Linked DNA regions of Homo sapiens: regions 1, 2, 3 and 5 are each linked to region 4. The links come from fine-mapping of genetic effects on gene expression. A gene starts in region 4. Each other region holds a variant in brackets. All regions are shown on one strand. Distances are between the middles of the regions. Region 1 overlaps DHX33 (DEAH-box helicase 33). Region 2 holds the start of LOC101928044 (zinc finger CCHC domain-containing protein 9-like). Region 3 holds the start of C1QBP (complement C1q binding protein). Region 4 holds the start of MIS12 (MIS12 kinetochore complex component). Region 5 has its middle 23 kb from the start of NLRP1.

Region 1 (6,387 bases), 24 kb before region 4:
CAACACAGCAAGATCCTGCCTCAAAAACAAAAACCTAAACAAAAACATGATAGAACTGTCAAGAGGTTGGAGATAAAGGGGGTTGGGGAGGGGCATTCTAAACTTTTGTCACCATGGTAAGAAATTAGCATATGATGCCTGATACCCATAACTCAAAAAATAGTGGTCAAAGCAAGGTAGTTTAGAAACATGAAAGCAATATGTAGAGATTGAAAGTAGGTGCCCTAAACAGCAGAAATCTGGGATGTTGAAGTAAAAACAACTGCTATTCTTTTATTATAAACCTTTTACTATAAACTACTTGACTTTTTAAAACTTTAAATCCCATATGCATCACTTATTTTAAAATAAAAATTGACTGGGCACGGTTTCTCACATCTGCAATCCCAGTGCTTTGGGAGGCTGAGTCGGGAAAATCACTTGAGGTCAGGAGTTTGAGACCAGTCCGGGCAACGTAGCAAGACCCTGTCTCTACAAAACATAAAAAAAAATTAGCCAGGTGTACTGGTGTGTGCCTGTAGTTCCAGCTACTCAGGAGGCAAAGGTAGGAGGACGGCTTGAGCCCAGGAGATCGAGGCTGTAGTAGCTGTGATTATGCCACTGCACTCCAGCCTGGGTGACAGAATGAGACCCCGTCTCTAAATAAGTAAATTAATTAAATAAAAAGTTATTTTAAAAGTTTGCCTCTGGATTTTCTCAGAAAGCTAATAGGAAGGTAAAAACATTAAATTTTATACAAATTAAACAAAAGTGACTTAATGATTCAAATTTTTGAAGTAAATGTTTAATAAAATGAGAAAATATTTTTAAATATTCTCCTAATATAGTTTAAAAAAAAAAGAAACTCTAAGTTGCAACCCATTATTGGGCTAATGTCAACTTTTTCTTTTTTTGAGATAGGATCTTGCTCTGTTTCCCGGGCTGGAGTGCGGTGATCATAGTTCACTGCAGCCTTAATCTTCCAGGCTTAAGTGATCCTCCTACCTCAGCATCCCAAGTAGCTGGGACTATAGGCATGCACCACCACACCTGGCTGATTGTTTGATTTTTAGTAGAGACAAGTCTTGCTATGTTGCCCGGGCTGGTCTCAAACTCCTGAGCTCAAGCAATCCTACCCACCTCTGCTTCCCAAAGTGCTAGGATTACAGGTGTGAGCTACTGTGCCCAGCCAACATTTTCTTTAAATGAGGCACAAAATATCAGAGTACCCTACATGTAGTAAAAGACACAGTACTTCTTCTTTAAAAAATAATTTTTATAATTTTTTTTATAGAGACAGGGTTTTGCTATGTTGTCAGACTGGTCTTGAACTCCTGGACTCAAGTGATCCTCCTGCCTTAGCCTCCCAAAGCGTTGGGATTACAGGTGTGAGCCACCATGCCTGGCCAGAAGCAGTGTTTCATAGACCTATTTCAGTTATATGTATAGCGTACGGGGTTGCAAAAGAAAAAGTACCTTTTTTTTTTTTTTTTTGAGACAGACCCTCGCCCTGTCACCCAGGCTGGAGTGCAGTGGCGCGATCTCGGCTCACTGCAAGCTCTGCCACCTGGGTTCGCGCCATTCTCTTGCCTCAGTCTCCCGAGTAGCTGGGACTACAGGCGCCCGCTACCACACCCGGCTAATTTTTTGTATTTTTAGTACAGACGAGGTTTCACCATGTTAGTCAGGAGGGTCTCGATCTCCTGACTTCATGATCCACCCGCCTCGGCCTCCCAAAGTGCTGGGATTACAGGCGTGAGCCACTGTGCCCAGCCAAAAGTACTTCTTAATGGCGGTTATAATCAAGGAAAGTTGGTAAGCTACTGCTTTAACATGAAAATTTTCTGGCTCAGTGTAAGAAAGCTGCTGGTCAGAACTGAATTATTTTTCTTTTCAATGAAAATTAGAGATATCATAAATAAAGGATAAAAATCCAGACACAGCAAATGAACTCCTTATTCATTGTTTTTTTTTTGTTTTTTTTTTCAGACGGAGTCTCCCTCTGTCACCTAGGCTGGAGTGCAGTGGTGCAATCTCGCCTCATTGCAACTTCCACCTCCCGGATTCAGGCGATTCTCCCACCTCAGCATCCCGAGTAGCTGGGATTACAGGCACCCGCCATCATGCCTGGCTAATTTTTGTATTTTTAGTAGAGATGGGGTTTCACCATGTTGGCCAGGCTGGTCTTGAACTCCTGACCTCAGGTGATCCACCTGCCTCGGCCTCCCAAAGTGCAGGGATTACAGGCGTGAGCCACCGCACCTGGCCTCCTTATTCATCTTGATGACACAACTCACAAAGTTGTTTTATTCAGTAGCTTTTCTTTTCAAGGCTCAATGTTCTCACTACCAACTGCAAGATAAAAGAGAACTTTTCAGGAATTTGCCCCCAGCACCATACCTGGTGGATCTGGAAGACGGAGACAAGCGCGGCGTGCAGGTAATCATTCTGAGGCTGTTTGGTGTAAAACACCTGGATCGGATGCTGCCGACCCTCTAGGTAGAGGACGGGGGCGCCATTGAAATACTGAGAGAACAGGTCCACATCCATCGTAGCTGACATCACAATCACCTGCATAAGAGAACGAAGAGGAGGACCAGAAACAAATAGTGGGAAGGCCTTTCCGTGTCCCTCTCGAGCCCCAAAAGCAGATGATTGAGGCCTGTGCCACCCCCATCACAGTTTACTTTCTTCCAAGGCTCTGAGCAGAACAGGCAGAGGAAAACACCCTGCTAGAGCACACAGGTCTGTTTCCTTTCCTTTCCTTCTTTTTTTTTTTTTGAGATGGAGTTTCACCGGGCACGGTGGCTCACGTCTGTAATCCCAGCCCCAGCACTTTGGGAGGCCGAGGCAGGCGGATCACGAGGTCAGGAGATCGAGGCCATCCTGGCTAACACGGTGAAACCCCGTCTCTACTAAAAATACAAAAAATTAGCCAGGTGCGGTGGTGGGCGCCTGTAGTCCCAGCTACTTGGGAGGCTGAGGTAAGCAATGGCGTGAACCTGGGAGGCGGAGCTTGCAGTGAGCTGAGATCGCGTCACCACGCTGCAGCCTGGGTAACAGAGTGCAAAAAAAAAAAAAAATCAAGACGGAATTTCAGTCTTGTTCAAGTGACTCTCCTGCCTCAGCCTCCCTAGTAGCTGGAACGACAGGCATGTGCCACCATGCCTGGATCATTTTTTGTATTTTTAGTAGAGACGGGGTTTCACCACGTTGGCCAGGCTGGTCTCGATCTCCTGACCTCAGGTGATCCACCGGCCTCGGCCTCCCAAAGTGCTGGGATTACAGGCGTGAGCCACCGTGCCGGGCCAATTATCTGGATACTTTCAGATCATATTTCTGCCAACTCCCTGAAATACAAGTTGTCTATAAAGTTATGCTATTTAATGAACTTTCA[C/CT]TTTTTTTTTTTTTTTTTTTTTGAGACAGAGTCTCGCTCTGTCACCCAGGCTGGAGTGCAGTGGTGTGATCTCAGCTCACCGCAACCTCCGCCTCCTGGGTTCAGGCGATTCTCATGCCTCAGCCACCCAAGTAGCTGGGATTACAGATGTGTGCCACCACACCCAGCTAATTTTTATATTTTTAGTAGAGACGGGGTTTCACCACGTTGGCCAGGCTGGTCTCGAACTCCTGACCTCAGGTGATCCACCGGCCTTGGCCTCCCAAAGTGCTGGGATTACAGGCGTGAGCCACCGCGCCCAGCCAGGCCTGTTTCCTTCTGTGTGTTACGCATACTTTCAGGGGAAGTTTCCCTCATACTTTCAGGGGAAGTTTCCCTCATACTTTCAGAGGAAGTTTCCCGAGTTCCTTTCTCCTCTTCTGTGCAGCTTTCACCACTCCAAAGAGCACATCTGTGTGGATAGTCCGTTCGTGAGCTTCATCCAAAATGACACAGCTGTATTTCCGAAGCAAAGAGTCTGAAATTGCTTCACGCAGAAGCATGCCATCTGTCAGAAACTTGATCCTGGTGTCTTCTGAGGTGACATCATCAAAGCGCACTGTATAGCCAACCTGTGCAGGGAAACAATTTATTCAGTCACCAAACATTTCTTGAGCGCCCACTGTGTCCGGCACTAAGTTGGGCACTTGCACTACCACAGTGAACAAGACCAACACCAACGCTTCCCACTCCCTTGGGAAGCATGCAGTCTAGCTGCTGAGAGAGACAATGGTCAAGTTTACTTTAACCGCAATTAATGTAACTATTACAAGGAATATTTAAAATTAACCTTCTACCTCAAGCTATTTAATAGTTTCATGTGGGCCGGGTGTGGTGGCTCACACCTGTAATCCCAGCACTTTGGGAGGTTGGGGCAGGCAGATCACGAGGTCAGGAGTTTGAGACCAGCCTGACCAACATGCTGAAATCCCGTCTCTACTAAAAAATACAAAAATTAGCCACTGGGTGTGGTGGCACGTGTCTGTAATCCCAGCTACTCGGGAGGCTGAGGCAGGAGAATTGCTTGGTTGGAGGCGGAAGTTGCAGTGAGCCAAGATTGCGCCACTGCACCTCAGCCTGGGCGACCGAGCGAGACTATCTCCAAAAAAAAAAAAGTTTCATGTGAAGCTATGTACAGATATGAAAAGACGTCTAAGGTATTTTTAAGTGAAATGAGTACACACACACACAAATAAATCTGTCTTATATACAGTTCTGAGACTCATTCTCAATACTCACATATACACTGGCATAATGCTTACAATTTTTCTAGAATGATATATAGATAAGAGAGTTAAGAGAGGTTACTGAAGGCTTAAGATGTTCAAGGAAAGCAACTAATTTATCCAACCTGACGACAGATTTTGAAAGCAAAGCACATGGGACCAATAGAGCCCCTGATCTCTCAGGAGCTGGTAAAGAACTCTCGGAAGAATAGGCAAGAAAGCAGCTCACTATGTAAAAGGAGTCTTGTTTAGAAAAATAAAAGGCAGTGGGCATGGGGAGAGAGCTGTTGAGTCAAGAAGTACTAATAGTCAAGAAGGAACCAGGTACCAGCTTCCCAAGTTCAGTTCTCTTCTCATCTGAGACTCTAGTAGCAAGAGAGATGGCAGCTACTCGACGAGGCTGGGTCACAGCAATGATGCCCTGGCGGCTGATCCCTCCTTCATACAGGTACTGAGGGATCTGAGTTGTCTTCCCAGAGCCAGTTTCCCCTAGGAGAGAGGGGGAAAAAAAAAAAAGGCTCACTGAAATGCAAACTGGGGCTCGGCACCAGGGCTGGCACCTATAATCTCAGCACTTTGGGAGGCCGAGGTAGGAGGCTCTCTTGAGCCCAGGAGTTCAAAATCAGCCTGGGCAACATAGCAAGACCCCGTCTCAACAACAACAACAATTAGCCTGGTGTGGTTGCATGTGCCTGTAGTCCCAGCTACTAGGGAGGCTGAGACAGAAGGATCATGAGGCCCAGGAGTTCAAGGTTACAGTAAGCCATGATTGTGCCACTGCATGCCAGCCTGGGAGATAGTGTGAGACACTGTCTCAAAAAAAATAATAAAAATAAAAAAAGAAATGCAAATCGGCTGGGCACAGTGGCTCATGCCTGTAATCCTAGCACGTGGGGAGGCCAAGGGAGGAGGATCACTTGAGCCCAGGAGTTGCTCCTGGGCAACATAGGGAGATGCCGTCTCTACAAAAAATACAAACATTAGTTGGACGTGGTGGTGCACGCCTGTGGTCCCAGCTACTCTGAAGGCTGAGGTGGGCATATTGCTTGAGCCTGAGAGGTTGAGGCTGCAGTGAGCCATGATCACACCACTACACTCCAGCATGGGCAACGGAATGACACCCTGTCTTAGAAAAACAACAACAACAAAAAGCAAATTGACATAAATTTCACCAAACAAACAGCTCAAAGTCAGAAGTAAAAGATAAAATACCCTGTGTTGGTAAAGCCTCAGGAGAATGGGCATTCAGGTATGTATACTGCTGGTGAAATTAGCTGGTTAATTGGTATTGTTTCTCAGGTGGTCAAATTATGTTTTTTAAATCTTTAAAATGTTTATATCCCTTGACCCACAATTCTACTTGCAGAAATTGATTCTAACAAAATAAGTAAACATGTGTATAAAGATACAGCTTCAAAGAGATTTTATTCAATTTTGCTCCTGACAGAAAAAAATTGGAAACAATATAAATGTTCAAAAGGTAATTTACATAGTTAAAATATAAAATAAAATACAACCGTTACATAGATTTCTGCATACTGACTGACATGAAGAGACATCCATTCATGCACTGCTGCCTTCAACTCCTGGCCACTCCCCAGCCTGCTGCCTCCCTTCAAACCCTCTGCCTCTGCCCACACTATGGGCAGAACACCTGCCCTCACACTGCCTGCCTCGCAAACTCTAAGATGAGTTAGGCCTCAAACACGCTCCCCTGGCTGCACAGTGGCCCTCCTCTGGGCTCCG
Region 2 (6,387 bases), 25 kb after region 4:
TACTAAAACTACAAAAATTGGCTGGGTGTTGTGGCTCACGCCTGTAATCCCACTGGGAGGCCGAGGCGGGTAGATCACGAGGTCAGGAGATCGAGTCCATCCTGGCTAACACAGTGAAACCCCGTCTCTATTAAAGATACAAAAAATTATCCAGGCATGGTGGCACGTGCCTGTAGTCCCAGTTACTGGAAACTCAGGAGGCTGAGGCAGGAGAATCGCTTGAACTCGGGAGGCGGGGGTTGTAGTGAGCCGAGATTGCGCCACTGCACCCCAACCTGGGCAACAAAGCGAGACTCCGTCTCAAAAAAGAAAAAAATTAGCCAGCGGCCAGGCGCAGTGGCTCACACCTGTAATCCCAGCACTTCGGGAGGCTTAGGTGGGCGGATCACAAGGTCAGGAGTTCGAGACCAGCCTGGCCAACATGGTGAAACCCCATCTCTACTAAAAATACAAAAATTAGCCAGGCGTGGTGGCGCACGCCTGTAATCCTAGCTACTCAGGAGGCTGAGGCAGGAGAATTGCTTGAACCATGGAGGCGGAGGTTGCGGTGAGCTGACATCGTGTCATTGCACTCCAGCCTGGGGGACAGAGCGAGACTCGGTCTCAGAAAAAAAAAAAAATTAGCTGGGTATGGTGGTGTGCACCTGTAATCCCAGCTACTGAGATGGCTGAGGCAGGAGAATCACTTGAACCTAGGAGGCCGAGGTTGCAGTGAGCTGAGATTGCGCCACTGCACTCCAGCCTGGGTGACCGAACGAGACTCTGTCTCAAAAGAAAAATAAAAATTAAAATAAATTTGTTTTGTAGAGACAGAGTCTTGCTATGTTGCCTAGGCTGGCCTTGAACTCCTGGCCTCAAGTGATCCTCCTTCTTGGCTTCTTAAAGTGTGAGAATTACAGGCTTGAGCCACTGCACCCAGCATGAGGGAAGCTATTGCAAAATATAGAAAGTCATGAGACTATTTATGCCCTTTGATACTATCCCTTAGTATTGACTTCAAGACAGTGATCTAAAGGATAACGAAAAGCTCTCTGCAGAAAGACGTGTATTGCAGTACTGCTTATTGTGGCAAAAAATTGGAAGCAAACTCAATGTCAGAACAAGAGGAGAATAGTTAAGTAAATGATATATCTACTGCAAGGAGTCATGCAGGGGAAGATTATCCTGAAAACTCTTAAGTAGCTTGAGGGATGCTTGTGATGATCTAAATCAAAGTCAAAAAAACAAGGTTTAAAACCCCATGTACTAGGATGATAACAAGATGAAAATGTGTTCCTGCAGAGAAAGACTGGAATGGAAAGAGGAAAGACAGAATTTTTGTATTGTTTGGATAATGAGATCATGGGGTGACTTCTTTCTCATTTGACCAGAACTTGTGCACCATGGTTATATTAGTTTCTGTGCAACAAGGCCAAAAAAATCTAAGTAATGGACCCAGTGGCCATTTTCAGGATTAACAATACTCTGTGATGGTCTGATTCATGCCCACGCAGACAAAGGTCCTTACCTAACCGCCTAGATGGCCCCGCATTGCCTAGCAACTACCTGCTTAACAGCAGTTGCTAGGAAACCAAGAACACAGCAGGACTCCTGACCAATAGCACAGCGTCCATACTACTGCTAGACTTCCCTTCAAGTTCTCTCCAACAGTCATGCTCCTGTCTAGCCTTTCCTCTTCTTCTCCTATTCTCCTCCTTCTCATTCCTACCTGCCTGGGGCTAACCTGTGAGTAGCACTCAATGGGGTCCCCACAATCATACAACCTGACACAACACAGGTAATCACAGGTTCCAGAGGACCTTCTTCCTTCCCCTGCTTCCTTCTTGCTCCAGGACTGGGGCCTGGACCAGAGTGTGTGCATGGCTCAAAGTTTAAATCTGTAGTTATCCCACCATTGAGACAAGTATTGCTCATGGCCTCTATCGGATTCTAGCACCTGGCAAATCCTACTCCTTGGGAGAGTGACTCCTTCAGGAAAGGCATTAAGCTCAGCCCAGGGCTCCCACCATCCATCAGAGTGCCTGGTGGAAGCATTCCATGATTCTTCCGTTTTTCTGAGATGGAGTCTCACTCTTGTTGCCTACACTGGAGTACAATGGCGTGATCTCGGCTCACTGCATGAGCCAGCACGCCCAGCTCATTTTGTTTGTATTTTTAGTAGAGATGGGGTTTTGCTATGTTGGCCAGGCCGGTCTCAAACTCCTGACTTGAGGTGATTCATCCGTCTCAGCCTCCCAAAGTGTTGAGATTACAGGCGTGAGTCACCTCGCCCAGCCAAATCCATGATTCTTGAATGCATTCTTTGACAGGGGTCCCTGTTCCAAGTGGCCCACTTTAAAGAGAAAGAAAACTTCATGTAGGGTGGATTAGTCTGAACACAGTGATCCTGGAAGACTCCAATTTTCCACCATTGTTGAGAATGATCCCTGCTGCCCTGCACTTCTCATTCCCATCATCTCCATGTGCTGTTCAACCGTCACATCCATTCTGAGGAAGTTGCCATCTATCTCTATTCAAAAAGATCTTTCTTCTATTCTTCTTCTTCTTTTTTTTTTTTAAATAGAGACAGTGTCTCACTATGCTGCCCAGGCTGGTCTCAAACTCCTGGACTCAAGCAATTCATTGGCCTCAGCCTCCCAAAGTGCTAGGATTATAGGTAAGCACCCAGCCAATTATTTTTATTTAGAGACAGGATCTTGCTCTGTCTCCAGGGCTGGAGTGCAGTGGCATGATTATGGCTCACTGGAGCCTAGGCTCAAGGGACCCTTCTGCCTCAGCCTCCAGAGTATCTGGGAATACAGGCATGTACCACGATGCCCGGCTAATTAAAAAAACTGGTTTTTTTTTTTGAGATAGAGGCTCGCTCTGTTGCCCAGGCTGGAGGGCAATGGCGTGATCTCGGCTCACTGCAACCTGTGCCTCCCACGTACAAGCAATTCTGCTGCCTCAGCCTCCCGAGTAGCTGGGGTTACAGGCACCTGCCATCATGCCCAGCTAATTTTTGTATTTTTGTAGAGACAGAGTTTCACCATGTTGGCCAGGCTGGTCTTGAACTCTTAAACTCTTAACCTCAGGTGATCCGTCCGCCTTGACATCCCAAAGTGCTAGGATTACAGGCATGAGCCACTGCATCTGGCCAAAAAAATGAAAAAAAATTTTTTTTTTTAAGAGACGGGGTCTTGCTATGTTGCCCAGGCTGGTCTTGAACTCCTGGTCTCAAACTCCTGGTCTCAATAGATCTTCAGGCCTTCGCCTCTCAAAGTGCTGGGATTACAGACATGGGTGCGTATTTCGTATCTCCTTGCCACTAGAATATAAATTGCTTGAGAATAGATACTCTGGCCTCTGTTATCACTGGCACCTACAACAGCCTCAGGCTCAAAGAAGCTAAGATTTACTGTCTGCCTAGTGTTGTGTACCAGCTCGCCCAGAACAACTTCCCACTCATGAGCTCACCTAGTCAAACAACCGTTTGACGCAAGCTTTGCTATTCCCTTCTTACACATCTGAAAACCTGTTT[CA/C]AGATCACACATCTAATGGGTGGTAGAGCCAAGAATTTGATTCCCAGCTCACTGCCTGTCCCTCAGAATTCTAGCTGTTGCTATTAGAATCCAGATCCAGGCCGGGCACGGTGGCTCACACTTGTAATCCCAGCACTTTAGGAGGCCGAGGCGGGCGGATCACTTGATGCCAGGAGTTCGAGACCAGCCTGGCCAACATGGTGAAACCCCGTCTCTACTAAAAATACAAAAATTTATCCGGGTGTGGTGGTGGGCGCCTGTAATCCCAGCTACTCGGGAGGCTGAGGCAGGAGAATCGTTTGAACCCGGGAGGTGGAGGTTGCAGTGAGTGCAGTGAGCTGAGATTGCGCCACTGCACTCCAGCCTGGGCGACAGAGCGAGCCTCCGTCTAAAAAAAAAAAAGAGAATCTGGATCCAAAGCGGACATGCATGTGTGTCTCCCCCATCCCCACACACTTGTTTGTGTCTGGCCTTTCTCCTACTCCAAGACTGGCTCCACTTCGGGGCTCGCTGCCATGGAGACGACTCCAGATTTAGGAATACATTTCCTAGGCTTCCGGCAACTAACGTGAGGACTTGCTGGGATGAGGGACGGGGAGGTCTGCAGAAGGAGGCGGGGCATGCGGGGGTTGCGGGGCTTAGAGGGTTGGCGGAGCCCCTCCTCGCGTAGGTCCTTCCTTCTTTCCCTCCCTCCCTTTCTCTTTTCTTTTTCTTTCTCTTTCTCTTTCTTCTTTCTTTCTCTTTCCTTTCTCTCTTTCCTTCCTTCCTTCCTCTTTTTCTTCATTCCTTCCTCTTCCTCTTTCTCTTCCTTTTTCTTTCTCTCTCTTCTTTCTTCTTTCTCTCTGTTGAAAATTGTTTTTGACCACACCCAGATCATACTGATATTTACAGTATAGTCCTGGCTACAAGGGAGCCCAGCTGTAACTTGTGAAGTGGGCCTGGTTTAGAAAGTAACAATGAGGTGGTAACTAATGACAGTACTAGTTGTTATCAAAAATTAACACCTTTAGGTATTTTTGTTTTGGGTTTTTGTGGTTTTGGTGCATCCACAATGTCTTCATAGTCTGCACTTATTCCCTTTGCCCACAGACCAACTGTGGCCATTCGATCTGAATTCTCACTTTCAGGGCAATCTTTCTTTAAATGTTCCACAGAGCCATGAAGTTGGCAACCACTACCATCAGCATAGAGTCCTTTGGGATTATCAGGACAAGATCTAGACAGGTGCCCCATTTCTCCACAGACAAAACATTCTGCAAAAGGACATTCGCCAAGAGGCGGGTCTACTTTAGCCTTACACTTGGTTATTTCGTGATCTGTGGACCCACACTTGTAACATCTTCTAGTGCCCATATCTTGATTTTCAAGGGCGGCAGGGCAATCCGCAATTCCACGACCAGGTTTTCTACAATGGAAACACACCATTGCATTTTTCTTTGCCCCTTGTCTTTTAAATCTTCTTACTTCCCATTGACTGTCCTCTTGGAGGAAGGGTTGTGTGGAGAGTGGAGGTCTGCATGTGGTAAAGGAGATGGGTGGGTGGGGCGTGAAGGACCCGAAAGACAAGGCCAGTCTCATGGGTGTGTGACCTGTGCGGTCACACAGAGCCCTGAGCTCAGCAGGGCCTGGCGCTTGATTTCATGTTCTGTTGTCACCGTCTTGACATTCTTATCATTTTTGAACGAGGGGCCCTGTGTTTCCATTTTGCACTGGGTCCCACAACTGCTGGAGCTGGTCCTACAGGAGGGTGAAAATTAGCATATAATGAGCAGTGAGGACAACCAGGAGTCCCTTTCATTGCCATCTTGGCTTTGGTGGGCTTTGGCCAGCTTCTTTACCGCATCTTATCAGTGGAGTCTTTGTGACCTGCATCTTGTGAAGCCAGTCCTGCCCACCTCCTGTGTCACCCCCAGCTTAGAGATCTGCATACAGTAAAATTACTACTAGCTTTCTCCTGAGGCCCTGCAAGCTAAAGCTTATACCTTGTGATACAGGCGTGTCAGATTGCCACCACTTTCCTGCTTTATAACTAAAGATGCTTTTGAGTCTAATACCTGGATAGACTGTGTCCAGCATTAACCTTTTTTTCTTCTGTTCTCATAAAAATCTCTCTTATTAAAAATCTGTTTGGCTTTGTATTTCAGACAACAGAAGACTAGTTTTCCAGCCTATTCACTTAGATTCCAAATGGCATCTGATCTCTTATTTTTTTCTTTCTTATTTTTTTAAAGAGACAAAGTCTATGTTGCCCGGGCTAGTCTCAAAAGCCTGAGCTCAAGTGATCCTCCTGCCTTGGCCTCCCAAAGTGTTAAGATTACATGCATGAGCCACCATGCTTGGCTTTGATCTCTTCTTTAAAACTGGGCTTAAGTATTTTATGAATTATCACTAGGTGCTATTTGATTTTAAAAATATTTGTTATATTCATCAGGTGTTCGGACGGTTCAAGTTTATGTCTTCCAGGCTACAACAGTTTCAGAGAAAAATAATTAGTCCAGTGTTCCAGCCTGTGCCACTGCAGAAAAGATGGAGTCCCTATAAGTCATTCGATCAGGTACGAAGACATTTCTATGCCTCCAGAGCAGGTAGGGATGATGGCCCCTGTTCAGCATGAAGCAGTGACAGAAGATAGATCTCTGTCCTTCTACAACCTCTTAAGATTAAGGACGAGTATGTAATGTCTGAGGTGGGGATAAGATAGGAGGTTGGCAGGACTGGTTTCACAAAGACTCCTCGTATAAAACAGGATGTGGTAAAGAAGCCAAAACCCATCAAACCAAGATGGTGATGAAAGGGACCTCCGGTTGTCCTCGCTGCTCATTATATGCTAATTTTAATACATTAGCATACTAAAAGACATTCCCAC
Region 3 (6,387 bases), 47 kb before region 4:
ACTGTGCTGACTAAGCTGAGCTCCTGGGCACAGAAATTGAATGACGTTCATCAGAGCATTATTTTTAATGGCCCCCAAATAGCTATGAAAACCTTGCGCAAATGGTGTTTAGGTGAGATTACAGAAGACACAATTGACCTGTGTAGGGCAAAAACACACTATGCAACAGGCAAGAGAATCAGGACCCTACTTCACACCATATTCAAAATGAATCACAGACCTAAACTAAGAGCTAAAACTAGAAAACTTTGAAAAAATTAAGGCATACATCTTCACAACCTTGGGTTAGGCAGTGGTTTCTTAGACGTGACACTAAAAAAGCACAAGTTGCACTTGGTGAATTAGAAGCAAAGTAAAAAATAAATAAAAAAGCACAAGCGACCAAAAAAATAGGTAAACTGAACTTCCTCAAAATTAAAAACTTTTGTGTCAGAGGACATTACCAAGAAAGTGAAAAGGAAACCCACAAGATGGGAAACAGTACTTACAAATCATTAATTTGATAAGATAGTTGTACCCAGAAAAACTTAACTTTTACAACCCAACAATTAAAAAGGTAAATAGGGTGGGCAGGGTGGCTCACACCTGAAATCCCAGCACTTTGGGAGGCCAAGGCGGGCGGATCACGAGGTCAGGACTTTGAGACCAGCCTGGCCAACACGGTGAAACCCTGTCTCTACTAAAAATACAAAAATTAACCGGACGCACGCCTGTAATCCCAGCTAAGGAGGCTGAGGCAGGAGAATTGTCAGAACCTGGGAGGCAGAGGTTGCAGTGAGCCAAGATCGCACCACTGCACTCCATCCTGGGTGACAGAGCAAGACTCCGTGGGGTTGGGGGGGGAAGCTACAAATTGTATGACTCCATTTATATGAAATGTCCAAAAGAGGCAATCCCATAGAGAAAGTAGCTTAGTGATTACCTGGGGTGGCTACAGGGAGGAATAATGAGTGACTGCTAATAGGTATTGTTTGGGGATGACAACAGTGTTCTAGAATTAGGTAGTGATAACTGATGCATAATTCTGCGAGGACTAAGAACCACTTAATTTAATAAACTTCAATAAATGGGTAAATCGTATGCCATCTCAATTAAATCTCATAAAAGCTGTGATTTAAAAAAATTACATACACATCATAAGGTCAATTATGAAGGAAATTCAATTTATTTATTTATTATTGAGATGGCGTCTTGCTCTGTTGCCCAGGCTGGAGCGCGGTGGCGCGATCTCGACTCACTGCAACCTCCACCTCCCAGGTTCAAGCGATTCCCCTGCCTCAGCCTCCCGAGTAGCTGGGACTACAGGCACGTGCCACCATACCCGGTTAATTTTTACTAGAGCCAGGGTTTTAGTGTTAGCCAGGATTTTCTCCTGACCTCATGATCTGCCCGTCCCAAAGTGCTGGGATTATGGGTGTGAGCCACCGCGCCCAGGCTCAATTTAAAAACCTGGAAGATGCCAAATGTTTATCTGTGTAATGAGATTATGGATGACTATAATGCAGAAAAGTGTAAACACTTTAACAGTTTAGGAGATGATGGGGGAGCTGACTTAGGTCACAAACTCCCCACCTCTGATGGCAGCCCTTACTACAGTGTAACCCCATCCTGTTACATAGAAGTTACATATTTTTCATTTTCACCCATACTAAACATTAGAGAGCAGTGTCCTATTTTATCAGGGCTGTAAATCAGAGATCAAACTGATTCTGCCAGTACTTTTTTGCACTACATTTTTGTCTCCTTAGTAACCAGCCCACAGCAAATTTGTGTTCGGTGAATGGACTGCCTGGGGCTTACGAAGTTGTCCAAATGAATCCTTCACTCTCTTGAAACCCATTTATCAAAGTATCCACACCTGAACTCAAGGCTCTTCTGGGGATGACCCAGGATGGGTCCTGCAAGGTTAAGGGAGTTGCTGCCCTGGGATCCCCAGACCAGTACTTACTTTTCCCCGGCAACTTTCCGCACTAATTTCGCTTCTGTCCCATTCAGTTCCAGCTCCCAACCTCCAGACATCTTAGGGAGGGTTTTATGCTTCTGAATTTTTCTTTCCTCCTTAATTTCATCACTCAGGAAATCAACAAAAGCTTTGTCTCCTAGAAAAGAAATCCAGATACATAAAAAGGAAAGCCAGTTAGTCTAAAACATAAAACTATTACCCAGGTTATTGCAGCCAGAAACCTGGACTGTTTCTAATCTCTCTGCTATTACGGTTACTCTAGAAGCCTGTTTCCTTATCGGTAAAAATACCATAATAGTAGTAGGAAGCTGAGCCTGATTCTGGAAAAGTGATTTCCAACAATGAACGCATTACCACTTTCCGCTATAAACCAGGAGAATTTCCAATCCTCTTCCACTTGCCAAACGATATAACTATGCTATTTTCAACCACGACCATGGGCCTTCCCAAAGGTCCACTTTCGATAGAATAAGACTAAGGAAAAAGGTACCCTAGTATTTAATTTTATTCACCCCCTACCAAAAGAAAACGAAACTGCTGGATAGGGGAGGTGGGGGAAATATGATCATACGTGGGTTTAGCCCGCTGGTTGCCAATCAATGGAAAAATGTCCCAGACCTCAGAGGTCGGTTGCAGGCCCTATTCCTGGTCTACGTTTTCCCTCTGTTGAACGCAAACCACACCCCCGGCCCGCTAAACCTCACCGTCGGTGTGCAGCGAGCCGCAGCCACAGCCACAGGCGCAGGGTCCGCGAGGCCGCAGGAGGCCCGGCCGCCGCTCGGAACCTGCGCGCACGCTGAGCAGCCCGAAGGGCCGGGTGCACAGCCGGGGTGCCGGCTGCAGGAGCTGCCGGAAAGGCGAGGCGGGCGCGGCAGCGCGGAGGCCGGCGACGGAGGAGCCCAGCACACGGGGCACGCAGCGCAGCAGAGGCAGCATCGCGGAAACGACTGCGAACACGTGCAGATGCAAAGGACAACCCAGGCCTAGGCGCCCCGCGACCTGAGGCGCCGCCGGAAGCCCCGCCCCTGCCCGGAAGCGCTTCCCGCGCCGGCGCTCTGACGACCTAAGGCCAGCGGGCGGAATCGCGCCCTCTGCTGGAGACTCCGGTGCAGCCCGGGAAGCCTCGAATCCGGATTCCGGAGCTTTCTTGCTGCGCTGCCGAGTCCGCTGTCCGAAGCTGTTTAATTCCCTCTAGTGGCCGCTTACCCACTTTCCACCTGCTGTTCTCAAAGCACGCAAGGCTTTTGGGCTGCGTGGAATGCACTCTTGTCTCCCGCCAGCTCTCACCAGACCCTTCCACGGTCACTTTCCTCTAGGAGGCTGTGGTGTTATGATATATATATGTATTGGTTTTCATCCACAGTTCCTGGGTCGTAACTCCTATAGCCCTTGTTACAATGTTCTGTGATAATGTTGGGTGTGTTAGGCCTCAGGAAACAG[A/ACTCT]CTCTCCCCTTCTCCTGCCCTCCTTTTACCTGCCCCAAAGCAGGACTCTAATCTCCTTCCACATTTCTGATTATGGGTCTTAAGTCCCTTCCCAGAGAAGGTCCCACCATATACCCTGGGGGAAGGGATGCTGATGTCCAGAAGCTTCCATAAAAACCCAAGAGGAGAGGGTTTGCAGAGCCTCTGACAGCTGAATACGTAGAGGTTCCTGGAGGGTGGTGGCCCAGGGTAGGCAAGGAACCTCGGAGCTTCTTCCCCATTCCCCACCCTGCTCATCTCATCTGTATCCTTGGTCATATCCTTTATATGAAACCGGTGAATGTGTTTCCCTGAGTTCTGTGAACTGCTCCAGTGAGTTAACATAATCCAAAGAGGGGGGTCGTGGGAACCCCAACTTGAAGCGGGTTGGTCGGAAGTTTCAGAGGCCCAGACTTGCCATTGCTGTCTGAAGGTGGGGGCGGTCTTGGGGACTGAGCCCTCAACCTATGGGATCTGACACTATCTCCAGGTAGATACTGTTGGGATTGAATTGGAGGACACCCAGCTGGTGTCTGCTGCTTAGTGTGGAGGGGAAAAACCCAAACCTTTGGCCACATAAGTCTTCTGTGTTGATTGTTGTGTTGTGAGAGCAAAGGAAAGTCTGAGGGTTTTCCTGAAAGAGGCCTTCTAGAACCTTTTTTTCCACCGGCTCGGAACTCATGCTTGTGCGCACCCAGCCCATATGCTTCATTCTCTTTTCAACAGGAACCTCCTAGCGTTGCTGCTTTAACCAGGTTAAACCCAACCAGACTGTGACATCCTCAAGGGCAGGATCCATGATTAATTTTTGTGACCTTCCCTCTCTGCACCTCCAACCTTGCATCCAAGTTCTAATGGAACATCATTTTTCTGGGGACAAGAAGCCAGCTTATATCATTTAGATAAGTCCAGAGGCTTCCATAAAAACCCGAGGACAGGGTTTGGAGAGCCTCTGATAGCTAAATACATGGAGGTTCCTGGAGGGTGGTGGTCCAGGGACGGCATGGAGGCTGGGAGCTTCTTCCCCATTCCCCACCCTGCTCATCTCCTTATCTGTATCCTTGGTCATATCTTTTGTATGAAACCGGTAAATGTGTTTCCCTGAGTTCTGTGAGTTTCTCCAGTAAATTAATATAACCCAAAGACAGGGTTCAGATTTATTAAAAATCAACAATCCTACCTTCCCAGGATATACAGGACATATAAGCTACTAAGAAGGTATGTCTTACTAACTCATGGTAAGACTAACACTTAATATTTTCTAAATAATTTTCTATGAATAATGGAAAAGAGATGCAAGAAACAAGCCACACACATCATATACAAGATTCATTTTTAATGGATTTGATCGTCGGGTGCAAATTTGAGCATTATTTACAAGAGCTTTCTGTAGAGTTATTTCTGTTCAAATAAAACCAGACTCTCAAAATACAACATAAGCCTGAACCTACTTGATTTTTTTTTCTCCCTCTAGTTACCAAGGAATATCGTATCTCAGATGCATGGCCTACTATCACACTGGTCTTTAAAGAAAAAAAAAAATGCATGGCCACAGTTCCAGGCAGTTCCTGGTAGCTGGATTTAGTGGATTTATATATGACAGTACAGTACATCATCAGTTTCACCCACAGGGCAGAACTTGCCTCCATTCAGGCATCTCTTTACAACTGGCAGCAATGCAGCATTAAGGGTTTTTAGCCAGGACCTGCTGTTTGCAGTCCTGCCCCTTGTAGTGTTACTCTGGGTGTTGCACACTCCATGATTACTAGAAGACAAACACCTGAGGCATGCAATCTGCTTGGAGTGCATCTATTTACATGAAGCTGCTCACGGGAGCTGGTGATTCTTCCAGATATGGGTTTCGTAGGTTGGCAAAGAGTTATCACACCATCAGAGATTTTACCAATGGAAAGAGAGTAGCTGAAGATTATATTGCAATGTTATTGTGAAACATTTAACTTTCTTAAGTTTAAAGTGTACTATCTCCTGCAGCTCAATATAAACAACGATGTATTTCTTTGTAGCAGTATGTGGAGTCAGAATGGGTTTTCCAATCTGATTTAATCCCTGAGCAGCTATGTTAAAAGTTAACTTTTTAAAAAAGCCCAATAAAAAACTAAATACTGTATTAAAACTCTACCACAATGTTACAGGGATAAACTTATTTCTGTACAGAAACATTAAAGCTACTTAGAAGCTGTTTACATCCTTTGCCTCTCAGAAAAAAAATATACATTTCCGGAAACTGTTCAGGTACTTAAGCTGGACATAAATTACCCCAAGTTTTTTCTTTTTCTTTCTTTCTTTCTTTTTTTTTCTGAGACCGTCTCACACTGTCGGCCAGGCTGGAATGCAGTGGCGTGATCTTGGCTCACTACAAACTCTGCCTCCCAAGTTCAAGCAATTCTTGTGCCTCAGCCTCCCCGGTAGCTGGGATTACAGGCGTGTGCCACCATGCCCAGCTAAGTTTTCTATTTTTAGTAGAGACGGGGTTTTGCCATGTTGGCCAGGCTGGTCTTGAACTTCTCAAGCAATCCACCCACCTCAGCCTCCCATCCCAATGCTGGGATTACAGGCATGAGGTGATCCGCCCGCCTTGGCCTCCCAAAGTGCTGGGATTACAGGTGTGAGCCACTGCGCCCGGCCACCCCCCAATTTTTTTTTTTTTTTTTTTTTTTTTACCAGCACTATGAATGATTAAAAATACAATATTTTTCTTACTAAGTAGGACTAAACATTCTAATCCCCTACTGGAAAACAAAAAACAAAAAACAAAAACTGGAAAACTTTTCAGAAAGTCAGCAGTGGTAACAAGTCAGTAAGTGGAAGAACTGGTTCAAAGTTTAAGAATTCAGTAAGATAAGGTATATAGGAGCTGTCAGATCTTCTTTTGCCCACGTATAACCATTTCTGACAGACAGCCCTAAACACTAGCTGAGAGCTTGACTGCACAGGACCACGGCTAG
Region 4 (6,172 bases):
GTTCAAAGTCTGAAAGACATCATTGGGACTGTGACATTTATAATAATAGGAAAGAAAATTTTAAATTGTGATCGTCGTATGGAGAAAGTTTGCTGGAAAGACTAGGTTAATCGGCAGAACAGAAAACAGTGCTTTCATATGTAGTATCATCATATAATAAATAGAACTGACATATCAGAGAAAAACTTCAGGGTCTAATATAAATTGCTGAGAAATGTTTACATTAGGCAGTCAGAAACATCTAAAAGAAAGGAAAATTCTTTTTTTTTAAACTAAAACTTAAAAAAAAAAAAAAAGAGATAGGTTCTCACTATGTTGTCCAGGCTGACTCAAACTCCTGGCCTCAGGGGATCATCCACCTCAGCCTCCCAAAGTGCTGGGATTACAGGCGTGAGCCACTGCACCCTGCCAAACACTTATTTTCTTGTTGGAAACCCTGATAGACCCTTCCCTACCCAACATCTCCACACCCACAGTAACCACTCTCAATTGTAGAGTGCTTAACGTTTTAAAATGTCTACTATCTCTTGTGATCCACAGACAAGCAAGCTACCCCCAATTCACAGATAGGAGACTAAAAGTTGACTGACTAGCTGAATACTAGTTATTCAGCTAAAAGTTGAACTTTTAAATGTCCTGACCAAGGACCCGCAGGAGTAGATGGAAACTCTGATGGCAAATCTAGAACTCCTAACTCCAAATGCACAGTGTCATCAAGAGTTTAACCCCAGGCAGAGTAAAGCCAAGTAGGAAGCAAGACTTACTTGGATGGAACTACAGCGCCATGTGAGTATTGTGCGAACACAGTGACAAGAGATGACAGGACTGCTTTACAGACCACTAAATTCTTGAGAATTGTTAACTATTAAAGTTGAAACAATTCAGTTCTACATATTAATTATCCAGATTTTAGAGTCCTCATCCTAGTGAGGAGACAAGCATACGCATAACTGCAAAGTAAAAGTGAGAGATGTTCTAAAACAAAGGAGGATGAGTACATAAAGGTTACACAAAAGCTGCGTTTTGAAAGGCAAGCTAGAGTTCAATGGATATAAAGTGAATGAAACACATTTGAGACAGACAGAACAGCATGTGTAGAGGCACAGTTATTGGCTTTTGGGTCTCTCCCCTACTCCAACTATGGTAAGATCATCCTGGAACAGAAAAATCCATCTCTCTTTTAGCATTTTATTTTGAGACAGGGTTTCGCTCTTGTCTCCCAGGCTGGAGTGCAATGGCACAATCTCGGCTCACTGCAACCTCCGCCTCCCGGGTTCAAGTGATTCTCCTGCCTCAGCCTCGCCAGTAGCTAGGATTACAGGCATGTGCCATCACGCCTGGCTAATTTTTGTATTTTTAGTAAGAGACAGGGCTTTACCATGTTGGCCAGGCTGGTCTTGAACTCCTGACCTCAGGTGATCTGCCTGCCTCAGCCTCCCAAAGTGCTGGGATTACAGGCGTGAGCCACTGTGCCCAGCCTCTTTTGGCATTTTAATCACTGGAAAGGACCATCTCCCATTGTAATCTAATAAACCACCATATAGCTTTAGATGTTTGGAATTTGGTTAGTATGATCTGATCCCTGGAAGACAGATCACAATTTAAAAGCACTAACAGAATTGAGTTTCTGGACCATGGTGATAACACCAAGGTGGTGGGTGTGCCTAGGTGCTGAATGGACAAAATAAGGCCATCCCTGTGAGACAACCCCTAAGCAGCTAGCTAGTCAGCCTCCTCTCATAGGACAACGTTAAGTCTAAACCAGTGATTTCCAAATACAGGAACTGGACACATCAAAACGATGCAGGGAACTTTAAAAATAAAACACAGATTTTAATTCCTACCCTTGCAAATTCTGATTTGGTACTTGTTGAGGAGCTTGAGAATCTCTTCAAAGTTCCCTAAGGGATTCTCAAGTCCAACCAGGCTGCAGAATCACTGCTTTATATCCTGACAAGGCAACTTATAATCAAAGGTCCCCACTGGGTTCTTTTTTAGGATAGTGTATAACAGGATTTGCTACTAAACAGTAAGAAAAAGAAGAAACTGAAGCATTAATCACTATTGTGATGAACCACTTACTTGAAAGTGTTTAAAGATTAATTCAGGATTGAAGTACAACTGAAAAGGTGTGATCAATTCCAACTGCTGAAATAGAAAAAGAGCTTCTTAAAGCAAATCAAGAAACAAAATTTCATCATTTACAACAAAGAATTAGTAGGTCTAGCAATTTCCAACTCTCGGTCACTTAGACGTGATTTCCTTTAAGCCTTTCTTCTTAGGCCAGAGGAAGAGGTTGGTAAAGAATTCTCTAGGATTGGTAGAATTCTTTGTATCCTCAATACCTAACACAAAAAAGTCTGTTTTATGTTGCAATAGTTGAGGCTGACATGAAGAAATGAGGCAGACAGGTGGTGATATTTTAGACACAGGACAAATAAAAACAGCTGCTATGAATCTACCCACCACATGGGCACCACCTGAAACAGCTGTATGAAACAACAAAACTCACTTGAAATAACGGAGACTGGAGACCCTGCCACCGTTAGGGCTGGGTACCTCCAGCTAGCCCCTTATTTAGATCCAGAGACCCTTTTTATTATAAGCCATTCCCCTCTCGACAGTTTCCAGCTTGCTTTCCCCATTCCTGTTTCTTCACTAAACGGACCTTCCTCTCACTAGTCACCATGGTACCACCTGGCCATTGGCAGAGCTCTCGGACACATTTCTTGGGTGGGAGGCTCCCGCAACCCTAACCCGCTATAGGTCCGGCGCTCATCTCTTAGAAACTGACCTGACCCCCCATGAAGCAGCACTCCCTTCTCGCGTCACTGGATAAGCATTCTTGGCGCCAACTCGAACCCCAGAGTAATCCCTGTACGCCTCCACCCATCCCCGGGACCAGCCCCTCTGGGCCTCCCCGAGGCCCAAACCCCAGTTTCCTGAAGACCCAGTCATATCCAGCCCAGATAATGAGAAGGTGGCACTGCAGCTGCTCACCACGGCGGCGGTGGTGAGGACGCAGGCAGTGGTGTAGGCGCGGCTGACCGGTGGGATCTGCAGGTACTCCAGCCGCAAGCTCTGGTACGCCATCTTCCCCACCGTCGCCTGCCCCACCCCCCACCCACCCCATTTCCCCTTCCGCCAGCAGGCCCCGGCGGCGGGGCGGGCCCAAAGGCCCCCCGCCCACTTTAGTTTTCCCGCGACTGCCCAATCAACGCCAAGCAACCGCAATCCGTAGAGACCTAAGGAACGCACATCCGCCAATCACGAGTTGCGTCGCCACCGCCCCCCCCCAGCGCCCCATCTCCCCACCCTCTCTTCTCCACCAGCCAACGTCCGGGAAAAACGAGTAAGTACAGGTTCCTTCTGCCAATCCCCGCCGGCCACAGCTAACTTTCCCGCCCGGCCCCTTTCTGTCATAATTGAGGTGTCCACAACCAGCCAATCAGGAACGCGAGAGTATCCCGCGTTTGCTTTCGCTCGCCGAGGCGCGTATCAGTCGGAATTTTGGGGAGCCAACCGCGCCGTCTGTCCCTGGCAAGCCAGCGGCGGTTTAAAGGAGGTGGCGGGAAGCCTGTGTGTGCTTCAAATCGTCACCCTCATGGTCGCTCCGGTAAGTGCTGCGGGGCAGCATTTTCTCTGAGGAGGAGCGGGGACGGGCGAGACTGGCATAAGCGTCTTCGCGAGGGAGCAAGGCGGCCTGTGGGTCGGCCTCACCCCGGCCTCCGACCTGAAGATCCCAGCATGCAGCGCGGGCGCGGGGCCCGACGGAAGCCGGGAGCCGGCCGGAAGCAGTTCCTGCGCTCTGGCTTCTGGGTCCTGTCCTGCGCGATCGCGGGGTCTTAGACAGCTCAACTCGCCGAGATGACCTGGGCACCTCTGCGTTGAATCGGCAAATACTGATCAAGCCGCATTTATTCTGCTCTCAGGAACTCTAAGTCTAGCAGAGAAGATGAGGCGGTAGAAGTTCATCAGTCAGTGCCCGAAGAGAGGTCCTAATGGGAATTCGAAGAAAGGAGTTAATCAAGGAAGTGTATTTTTTTGTTGTTGTTTGAGATGGCGCCCACCTGTAATCCCAGCTACTTGGGAGGCTGAGCTAAGAGGATCACTTGAACTTAGGAGGCAGAGGTTGTAGCGAGCCGAGATCATACCACTGTACTCCAGCCTGGGCGAAAGAGTGACACTTTGTCTCAAACAACAACAACAACAAGAAAATTAGCCAGGCATGGTGGCCTGCACCTGTTGTCCCGGCTACTTGGGAGACTGAGGTGGGAGGATTGCTTGGGCGCGGGAGGTTGAGGCTGCAGTGATCTGTGATCGTGCCACTGCATTCCAGCCTGGGCGACAGAGCGACAACATGTCTCAAAAGAAAAAAAGAAAAACAGAAAGAAATCCTACCTTACATATACAGCCAAACAGTTATAACCACTCCATATTTAACCATTACAAACGTAAATTTTTATTTTATTTTATTTTTTGAGACAGAGTCTCGCTCTGTTGCCCAGGCTGGGGTGCAGTGGCACAATCTCGGCTCACCGCAACCTTCGCCTCTCGGGTTCCAGTGATTCTCCTGCCTCAGCCTCCCGAGTAGCTGGGATTGCAAGTATCCACCATCACGCCTGGGTAATTTTTGTATTTCTAGGAGAGATAGGGTTTCGCCATGTTGGCCAGGCTGGTCTCGAACTCCTGACCTCAGGTGATTCGTCCATCCGGCCTCCTAAAGTGCTGAGATTACAGGCATGAGCTATCGTGCTCAGCCTACAAACATAAATTCTTAAGATTGGCTGCATCTTATCTTCCCATAAGATTTGACTGTACTGCTTATTGCAAATTATTTCATAAAGTGCGTCCTAAATTCACCTGATAATTGAAGTAGCAGTTTGTTTTAGCTAATTGCCTTTATCTGAAGGAATAATAAAATTTCTCTTATTTCTATGACAAGCAATATCATTTCATCTCAGAAAAAGATGCCTAGGTTGAATTCCCACAATGACAAGGAGATAGGGGTTTTATTTTCCTAGATGTTTATATTTGAGAGGAATTACTCGCAGACCCTTGAAAAAACATGTCAGGGTTATAAAGCTGACAAGGGACTTACTCATCTTCTAATTGGGTTTTTTTCAGATGGCTTGGCTGGAGGACAAGCAAATTGAGGACATTGGCAACGGAGTGATCAAAATGATAGATCATGAGGCCTAAAATGAATAAGGAAAGAAGAGAAGTGGCAGAGGCTGAGAACAGAAAGAGAGGGTGGAGGGGCTGTAAATCTTGAAGATTAGGGTATAATATGAGTATATGGGTAAGAATTGGAAGAATTGTGTAGGAGGCAGTAGTCAAAAAGTAGAAGCAGTTTGGAAGAGTAGTTACAAATATCAAGAGCCAGGTGGCTAAAAGGTGGAGCTATAGGTCATTGAAGCTCAAGAAACTGAGTCTCTAGGGCATTGGTTAAGTCATCTGTCTAGACTTCAAAGTTGTCTAGGATGATAATTCAGAAGACTGATCTGTGCCAAAGTCACAGGTAAGGGAAGTGAACAACGAGGAGGGGAAAAGGGAGGGTATAGGCTGATGGAAGGAGCCTCAGAGAGGCAAAGAGTTTATATCCTGTTGTGGGAGTGGCATCAGGTATAAAGGAACACAAACTCCTTATTTTTTATTGATTTGCTTCTTTGTTTGCTATCTGTAATGTGATTGGTTACTTCCTGCAGAAGATTTTTTTTTTCCAAATGAATTATTTCCTTTTTACATTTGCAGGTTTTTCACGACTGAAAACAACATAGCAAAATAAGCCAAGATGTCTGTGGATCCAATGACCTACGAGGCCCAGTTCTTTGGCTTCACGCCACAAACGTGCATGCTTCGGATCTACATTGCATTTCAAGACTACCTATTTGAAGTGATGCAGGCCGTTGAACAGGTTATTCTGAAGAAGCTGGATGGCATCCCAGACTGTGACATTAGCCCAGTGCAGATTCGCAAATGCACAGAGAAGTTTCTTTGCTTCATGAAAGGACATTTTGATAACCTTTTTAGCAAAATGGAGCAACTGTTTTTGCAGCTGATTTTACGTATTCCCTCAAACATCTTGCTTCCTGAAGATAAATGTAAGGAGACACCTTATAGTGAGGAAGATTTTCAGCATCTCCAGAAAGAAATTGAACAGTTACAGGAG
Region 5 (6,387 bases), 120 kb after region 4:
TGGGACACACATTTTAAAAATTCCCAGGGAAGAGATCCATTATCTCAGAGGGAGTGAGGTGCTCATTCCTTGACTAGGGCCCTCAATTTGTCACCAGGTAGGTTGGGGGAAGCGCTTGCAGAGTGAAGTTATTGTGGGAAGTGTATTCATTTAAGAGACATTCTTCATTTTATGATAGGAGATACAGCAATTGGGATGACTTTGGCTGCAAATAGGAGAAAACCTTACTCACACTGGTTTAAATAATAAGGAAATTTATTGGCTCATATAATGTGAAGCCCATGTGTACAATGGTCTTAGGTTAGCTTAATCCAAAGGCTCCAGTGTCCTTTTTTCTGCAATTCCCTCATCTGTACTCTCTTTTTGCTTAGTCTTTGTCTTCAGACTGCTTCCTTTTTGGAGGCAAAAAAGAGGTAGCAGTTTCTGGCTCCACATCCACACATAAAATCCAGAGGAAGAGAAATTGTCTGAAAGATTTTTCATAATAAAGGAAGCTTTATTCTCAGAATCTTCCAGCAAACCTCTCTGTGGTTTCATTGGCTTGAATTGGATCCCATGCCCTTTCCTGAACAAGTTGGTGGCTGGTGGATTTCGTGTGCTGACTGGCTCAATTCTATTCATCCCAGAGCCTGTGGCAAGGAGACTGGGATTATCCAGATTGGATTAGACTAATTAGAGGCCATCCAAAACACCTGAGTGCTGCACGGTAGGCATGGGTGTATCAGTTAGCTTTTTTTCGCTTCTTTTTGTTTTTTGAGATGGAGTCTTGCTCTGTTACCCAGGCTGGAGTGCAGTGGCATGATCTTGGCTTACTGCAACCCCCGCCTCTTGGGTTCAAGCGATTCTCCTGCCTCAGCCTCCCAAGTAGCTGGGATTATAGGTTCCTGCCACCACGTCTGGCTGATTTTTCTAATTTTAGTAGAGACAGGGTTTCACCATGTTGGCCAGGCTGGTCTTGAACTCCTAACCCCAGGTGATCCACCCACCTTGGCCTCCCAAAGTGCTAGGATTAAGGCATGAGCCACTGTGCCCGGCCTCAGTTAGCTTTTGTTGTGTAACAAACCACCTAAATTTTAGTTGCTTAAACTATCATTTGTTTATTACGTTCAGATTTTGTAGGTGAACAATTTGGGCTGTGTTTAGCAGGATGGTTCTTCTGTTGGGCCTAAATCTCTCCTGCATTTTTGGTCAGCTCATAGGTCAGCTCGGGTTGTGGGGTTTATGACATCTTTGCTGAGATGGCTGGGATGACTGGAGCCGCTCTTCCTCTGATTGTCTGAGGGTTCCAAGAGCCACAAGAGAGAACAAGCCCCAGGGCACAAACACTTTCCAAATATCTTCTTGCCACACATTGCTATTGTCCCATTGGCTGAAGCAAGTCACACAGCAAGTACTGAATCAGGTAAGGGGAAGATAAGGGGATGGAGAAAGGGCTGGGTGTGGTGGCTCACACCTGTAATCCCAGCACTTGGGGGGCCGAGGTGGGCAGATCACTTGAGGCCAGGAGTTTGAGACCAGACTGGGCAATACAGCAAAATCCCATCTCTAAAAAAAAAAAAAAATACAAAAACTAGCTGGGTGTGGTGGCAGGCACCTGTAGTCCTAGCTACCAAGGAGGCCGAGGTGGGAGGATCACCTGAGCCTGGGAGGTTGAGGCTGCAGTGAGCTGTGATTGTACCTGTGTATTCCAGTATGCGTGACAGAGTGAGACCCTGTCTCAAAAAAAAAAAAAAAAAAAAAGAAAGAGTGAACAAAGTTGGAGCCATAAACACAATAATCTACCCCAGTGAGGAGAGCTAACATTGGGAGAGAGCCACTGTTTCTACCCTAAGATGCAAATGGAAAGAGTGGTTCTAGAGAAGATGTGGAATGCAGAAGACTCTGATTCCAATACAACAGGAGCCACAGGGCACACTGTGTTGGAAGAAGTGTTTGGGCACAGTATATATCTGGAGAGGAGATGGCAGAGAGAGAAGTTTGCACTTAGGACCGAAAGTAAGGATGGAGGGAACAGTTCAACCTGGAAACAGTGCCAGGCTTTGGACTAGGAATGCTGCCTGCTCCATCTTATTTGGTCCCTACAGCTGCAGGTGAGAAAATGGGCTCAGAGAGGTTAAGCAACATGCCCAAGGTCAAGGTCACACAGTGAGAAAGTGCGGATTTAAGCCCAATTGTCTGTGGATCTCAGGTGTGAAGGAAACAGGATTTGGCTGACGATGGCAGTGAAGGAGGGGGAGGGGAATGGGGTAAAGGAGTGCTGAAGTGCAGAGATCTGTGGCCCCAGCTCACCCCAATGTTGAGCAGAGTGAGCCTGGACCAAGACGCCTCTTTGCCAGCATGGAGTTCTGGACTGCAAGCTCCTGGGGCATGGACCTCATTCCTGTTCTAGTCCTCCTGCCCACAGCATCTAGCAGAGTTCTGAGACTCGGCACTGAGG[G/T]GCACATCCCATGTGCCCGGTGGTTTACTGCCGCTGTCTCACTTAGCCCTCCTAACAGCACGGATGTGGCATATGCCACTATTATCCCCATTCTACACATGAGACAACCACGGCCTGGAGAACTAAGACACGTCTTTGTGTTTGCAGACTTAGTGAGTAGAGAAGCCAGGGCTTAAAGATGGGGCCGTGGAGCCCAAAGTTCATGCTCTGAAGTGCTGGCTAGGCTGCCTCAGGGAGGAAGCAGTGCACCAAAGGGAAGGGTGGCAGGAGGGGGAGAGCCTGGATATGGAAACCCTCACGGTGAGGGGTTTGACACGTCACCATTGAAAACATGTGAGGACTTATTACTACTCTCCAGGATTGGACTAAGTGTTTTCTTTTCTTTTTTTTTGAGACGGAGTTTTGCTCTTGTTGCCCAGACTGGAGTGTAATGGCGCGATCTCAGCTCACCGCAACCTCCGCCTCCTGGGTTCAAGTGATTCTCCTGCCTCAGCCTCTTCAGTAGCTGGGATTACAGGCATGCGCCACCATGCCCGGCTAATTTTGTATTTTTAGTGAAGATGGGGTTTCACCATGTTGGTCAGGCTGGTCTCGAACTCCTGACTTCAGGTGATCTGCCTGCCTCAGCCTCCCGAAGTGTTGGGATTACAGGCGTGAGCCACCGCACCTGGCCTGGATTAAGTGTTTTCTATATCTTATTTAATCCTCAAAAATTACGTGGGGGCTGGGCACTGTGGCTCAGCCCTGAAATCCTAGCACTTTGGGAGGCCAACACGGGAAGATCACTTGAGGCCAGGAGTTAGAGACCAGCCTGGGAAACATGGGGAGACCCCCTGTTTCTATAAAAGGTAGAGAAAATTAGCCAGGTATGGTGGCATGTGTCTGTGGTCCTGGCTACTCAGAAGGCTGAGGTTGGAATATTGCTTAAGCCTAGGAGTTTGAGGCTGCAGTGAAGTATGATCATGCCACTGCACTACAGTCTGGGTGAAAGAACAAGACCCTGTTTCAAGAAAAAAAAAAAGTACTTGAGGATACATATTACTTGTTTGCCCATTTGAGAGGTGAGAAAACTGAGGATCAGTGAGGTGAGCTCACTTGCCAAAAACCACACTACTACTAAGAAGAGGCAAAGCTGCAGGCAAATCTGGTCAGGGCTAACCTCAAAGCCCACGCTTAACCACTGCACCACCCAGCACTTTGCTATCCAACACTGAGTGCTTCAGCCTTGCACTATCCGGGCCCATGCTGGGTGCAAGACAAGGCTGCAAAGGCAGATATTTGTGGGATGTGCTGCAAGCTTTGATTACCCAGAAGACTCTTGGGAGAGGGAGGGTCAGACATTTTTGTTGCTTCTTACGATTGAATTTTTGGAACACTCTGGTGAGAGTTGAGTTGAGAATTTGGCACAGAGAGAGCACCCCAAAAATGATGGCTGTGCTGAACCAAATTGTGGCTCTTCCTGGAGTGTGACACTTCCAGCCAGAGGCCCTCAGGTATGCACAAGAGCAGCAATGCCCCAGACCTCCAAGGACTCAGGACCTAAAGTAGAGCGAGAAGCCCAGATACAGTCTCCCTACGGGAGGGGCACGGTGAGCTCCAGGCCTCCACATCTGGACAGAGAGCTCTCATCAGCTTGGACGAGCCAGATCAGGTCCCTCTGCACATGACGCCTTTCTCCTTTTCAAGCCATTCTATAAACTCCCAGTGCTGTGGCCAACCAAACAGGCAGGGCTGGAGCAAGAACCATGTCCTCCCTTCGAATCAAACATTTCCCACAAACCTTTTTCTCCCCAAAGTCACTAATAACAATCTTCATGCCCACAGCATCTGCTAACGATTTATTATTACACGGGTAGTATAACATTTTCATACCCACACCATTTTTCATCCTAGGTGGAGTTAATTGCAAATGACTCCCAAGCAAACAGCATTTCCTCCAGCAATCCATTGCGAACAATGGAGCTCCGATTCCCCCCACCAAATCCTGCCGCCTTGCCCCAGCTCCCATGACCTTCTCTCATTTATCACCATTGCTCTAAATGAGTCACACACACCAATAGAAAAGGCCCTGAAACTTTCAACTCAGTGGCTCCTTTCTGCTAAAAGCAGCTCTAAAAGCATGCGGACTTTCTTGAAAATTGAGTTCTAGTTTCTCATCAAATGGAAAAAGAACTTTTCCTTAGGGGCATCTCTCACCACCTATGTCCATATGACGTATGTGAAGTCGTGATGTCTTGGAGGTGGCTGAGGGGCTTTCAGGTTCATTTGGTTGGTGACAGAATGCTGCCAGGTGAGAGCAAGGCTGCAGAGAGCAGAGCTTTCCAAATTGCTGCATTTTCTACAACTCTAAGGTAATAAAACTGGAATAGGTAACAATTGATGTTTGTATAATTCTACTAAGTGTCAGAGACTCTTCTAAGTCCTATATGTATATTTTACATACATTTAACATATATATTAAACAGCCTCCTCATAACCATTCTGAGGTAATTACTATTAGTATTTCCACTTTACAGGTGAGGAAACTGAGGCACGGAGAGATAAGTGACTTGTGACTTGCCCAACATCACAGAGCTGGTAAGTGTTGGAGTCAAGATGCAAACCCAGGTGATCTCCATCCAGTATGAGCTCTCATCTGCTCTTCTCTCTGGCCTTTTTGTAGTGTGTTAACCTCTTTCCTTTCCTATGTTGACATAATCGTTTCAAAGACTATACAGAAAAGATGTCAAGTGAAGCAGTGTGAATGAAGACGGTGAGTTTTGTAGAGAGGGCTGACAGAGGGCTGCGCCTTTCATAGGGTTTTCTACTCCTACCAAGCAATAAGAAGAGCCCCCTCTCCCTCCACCCAGTGGAATCATTTCCCCCAGTTCTGTGTCTATGAGAGAGCAGAGGGAGAGGACATCCCTGGAACTGGAAGACCTGCATTTGAGGACCAGCGCCCTCTCTTTCCAGCTGTGTGGTGTGAAAGGAATACCAGCCCAGATTCTGGCATGGCCTTCCATTAACTAGCTGTGTGCTCTCAGCCATGCTGTTTCTTTCTCTGGACCTAAATTCCTGCATCTTCAGAAGAAGGGTGAGCTGGATGATAGCCAATGTTACATCTTGCTCTAAGTGAGGCAATTCTAGTTCAGGATACAACAATCATTTCATCTAATGAACCAACTTCAGATCATTTTAGTGGTGGCCACAAGGTGTACCTTCTGGAGATTAATTCCGAATTCAAGTTCAGGCTCAGAGGAAAAGGTGGCTTGATCTATTTGTGAGTCTACCACAGACTTTGGAGGGGGAAAAGTGAAAGTTACAACAGACATCTGACATTCTAGTTCCACTGTCCTCACTGTTTTATTTATTTATTTTTTGAGACAGGGTCTGGCTCTGTCGCCAAGGCTGGAGTGCAGTGGCACAATCTCAGCTTACTGCAACCGGGCTCAAGCAATCCTCCTGCCTCAGCCTCCCTAGTAGCTGGGACTACAGGTGCACACCACCACGCCTGGCTAATTTTTGTATTTTTCATAGAGACAAGGTCTCACTATGTTTCCCAGGCTAGTCTTGAACTCCTGGGCTCAAGAAATCCACCGCCCTCGGCCTCCCAAAATGCTGGAATTACAGGTGTGAGCCACTGCACTCAGCGTCCTCACTTTTTACATGAGGAAACCAAGCCCTAGAGAGGTTAAGTGACTTCCGTTAAGCCTCACGGTGAGGTAATGGTGGAGTTGGGATTAGAAGCCAATTCTGCATATTTACTATGGAATGTCACTGTATGAGGAGTTGGCAGAATAGCTAACAATGACCGACATTTATTGAAAAATCACTATATCCTCGCTATGTGTGGTAGACGAAATTATTGTTCATCACTCATTCCTTCCCCCTGAATCTCCAATCCACAGGCAAATGAGTGAGAAAGTAAGTGCTTGTTGTTGTATGACACTGAGCTTTTGTGGTTGTCATGC

Evidence for each region. PIP is the estimated chance that this variant, and not a neighbour inherited with it, causes the effect.
Region 1: its variant is fine-mapped to the expression of MIS12 in whole blood (INTERVAL, PIP above 0.99).
Region 2: its variant is fine-mapped to the expression of MIS12 in whole blood (INTERVAL, PIP above 0.99).
Region 3: its variant is fine-mapped to the expression of MIS12 in whole blood (INTERVAL, PIP 0.92).
Region 5: its variant is fine-mapped to the expression of MIS12 in whole blood (TOPMed, PIP above 0.99).

Annotation. Positions count from the first base shown.
Region 1 is chr17:5,458,560-5,464,946 of GRCh38, forward strand. It overlaps DHX33 (DEAH-box helicase 33), which reads right to left. Exons shown (of 12, transcript NM_020162.4): 2 at 4,970-5,130; 3 at 3,760-3,987; 4 at 2,380-2,550. Among named protein-coding and RNA genes, the nearest start is that of DHX33, 7.2 kb to the right of the region's middle. The variant C/CT (reference allele first, on the strand shown) is at 3,377.
Region 2 is chr17:5,507,529-5,513,915 of GRCh38, forward strand. It overlaps LOC101928044 (zinc finger CCHC domain-containing protein 9-like), which reads right to left and starts at 5,198. Exons shown (of 1, transcript XM_047437231.1): 1 at 4,424-5,198. The coding sequence starts at 5,099. The coding sequence ends at 4,512. It also overlaps a transcript of NLRP1 not described here. The variant CA/C (reference allele first, on the strand shown) is at 3,521.
Region 3 is chr17:5,436,175-5,442,561 of GRCh38, forward strand. C1QBP (complement C1q binding protein) reads right to left here and starts at 2,981. Exons shown (of 6, transcript NM_001212.4): 1 at 2,668-2,981; 2 at 1,949-2,099. The coding sequence starts at 2,899. DHX33 (DEAH-box helicase 33) reads right to left here. Exons shown (of 12, transcript NM_020162.4): 12 at 4,743-6,387. RefSeq lists silencers at 2,648-2,697, 2,808-2,977, 2,956-3,138 and an enhancer at 3,198-3,377. The variant A/ACTCT (reference allele first, on the strand shown) is at 3,404.
Region 4 is chr17:5,483,069-5,489,240 of GRCh38, forward strand. It overlaps MIS12 (MIS12 kinetochore complex component), which reads left to right and starts at 3,498. Exons shown (of 3, transcript NM_001258217.2): 1 at 3,498-3,616; 2 at 5,128-5,521; 3 at 5,755-6,172. The coding sequence starts at 5,795. It overlaps DERL2 (derlin 2), which reads right to left and starts at 3,110. Exons shown (of 7, transcript NM_016041.5): 1 at 3,001-3,110; 2 at 2,083-2,148. The coding sequence starts at 3,093. RefSeq lists enhancers at 2,768-2,947, 2,988-3,047, 3,668-3,767, 4,008-4,117 and silencers at 3,218-3,377, 3,327-3,494.
Region 5 is chr17:5,604,511-5,610,897 of GRCh38, forward strand. No RefSeq gene overlaps it. Among named protein-coding and RNA genes, the nearest start is that of NLRP1, 23 kb to the left of the region's middle. The variant G/T (reference allele first, on the strand shown) is at 2,438.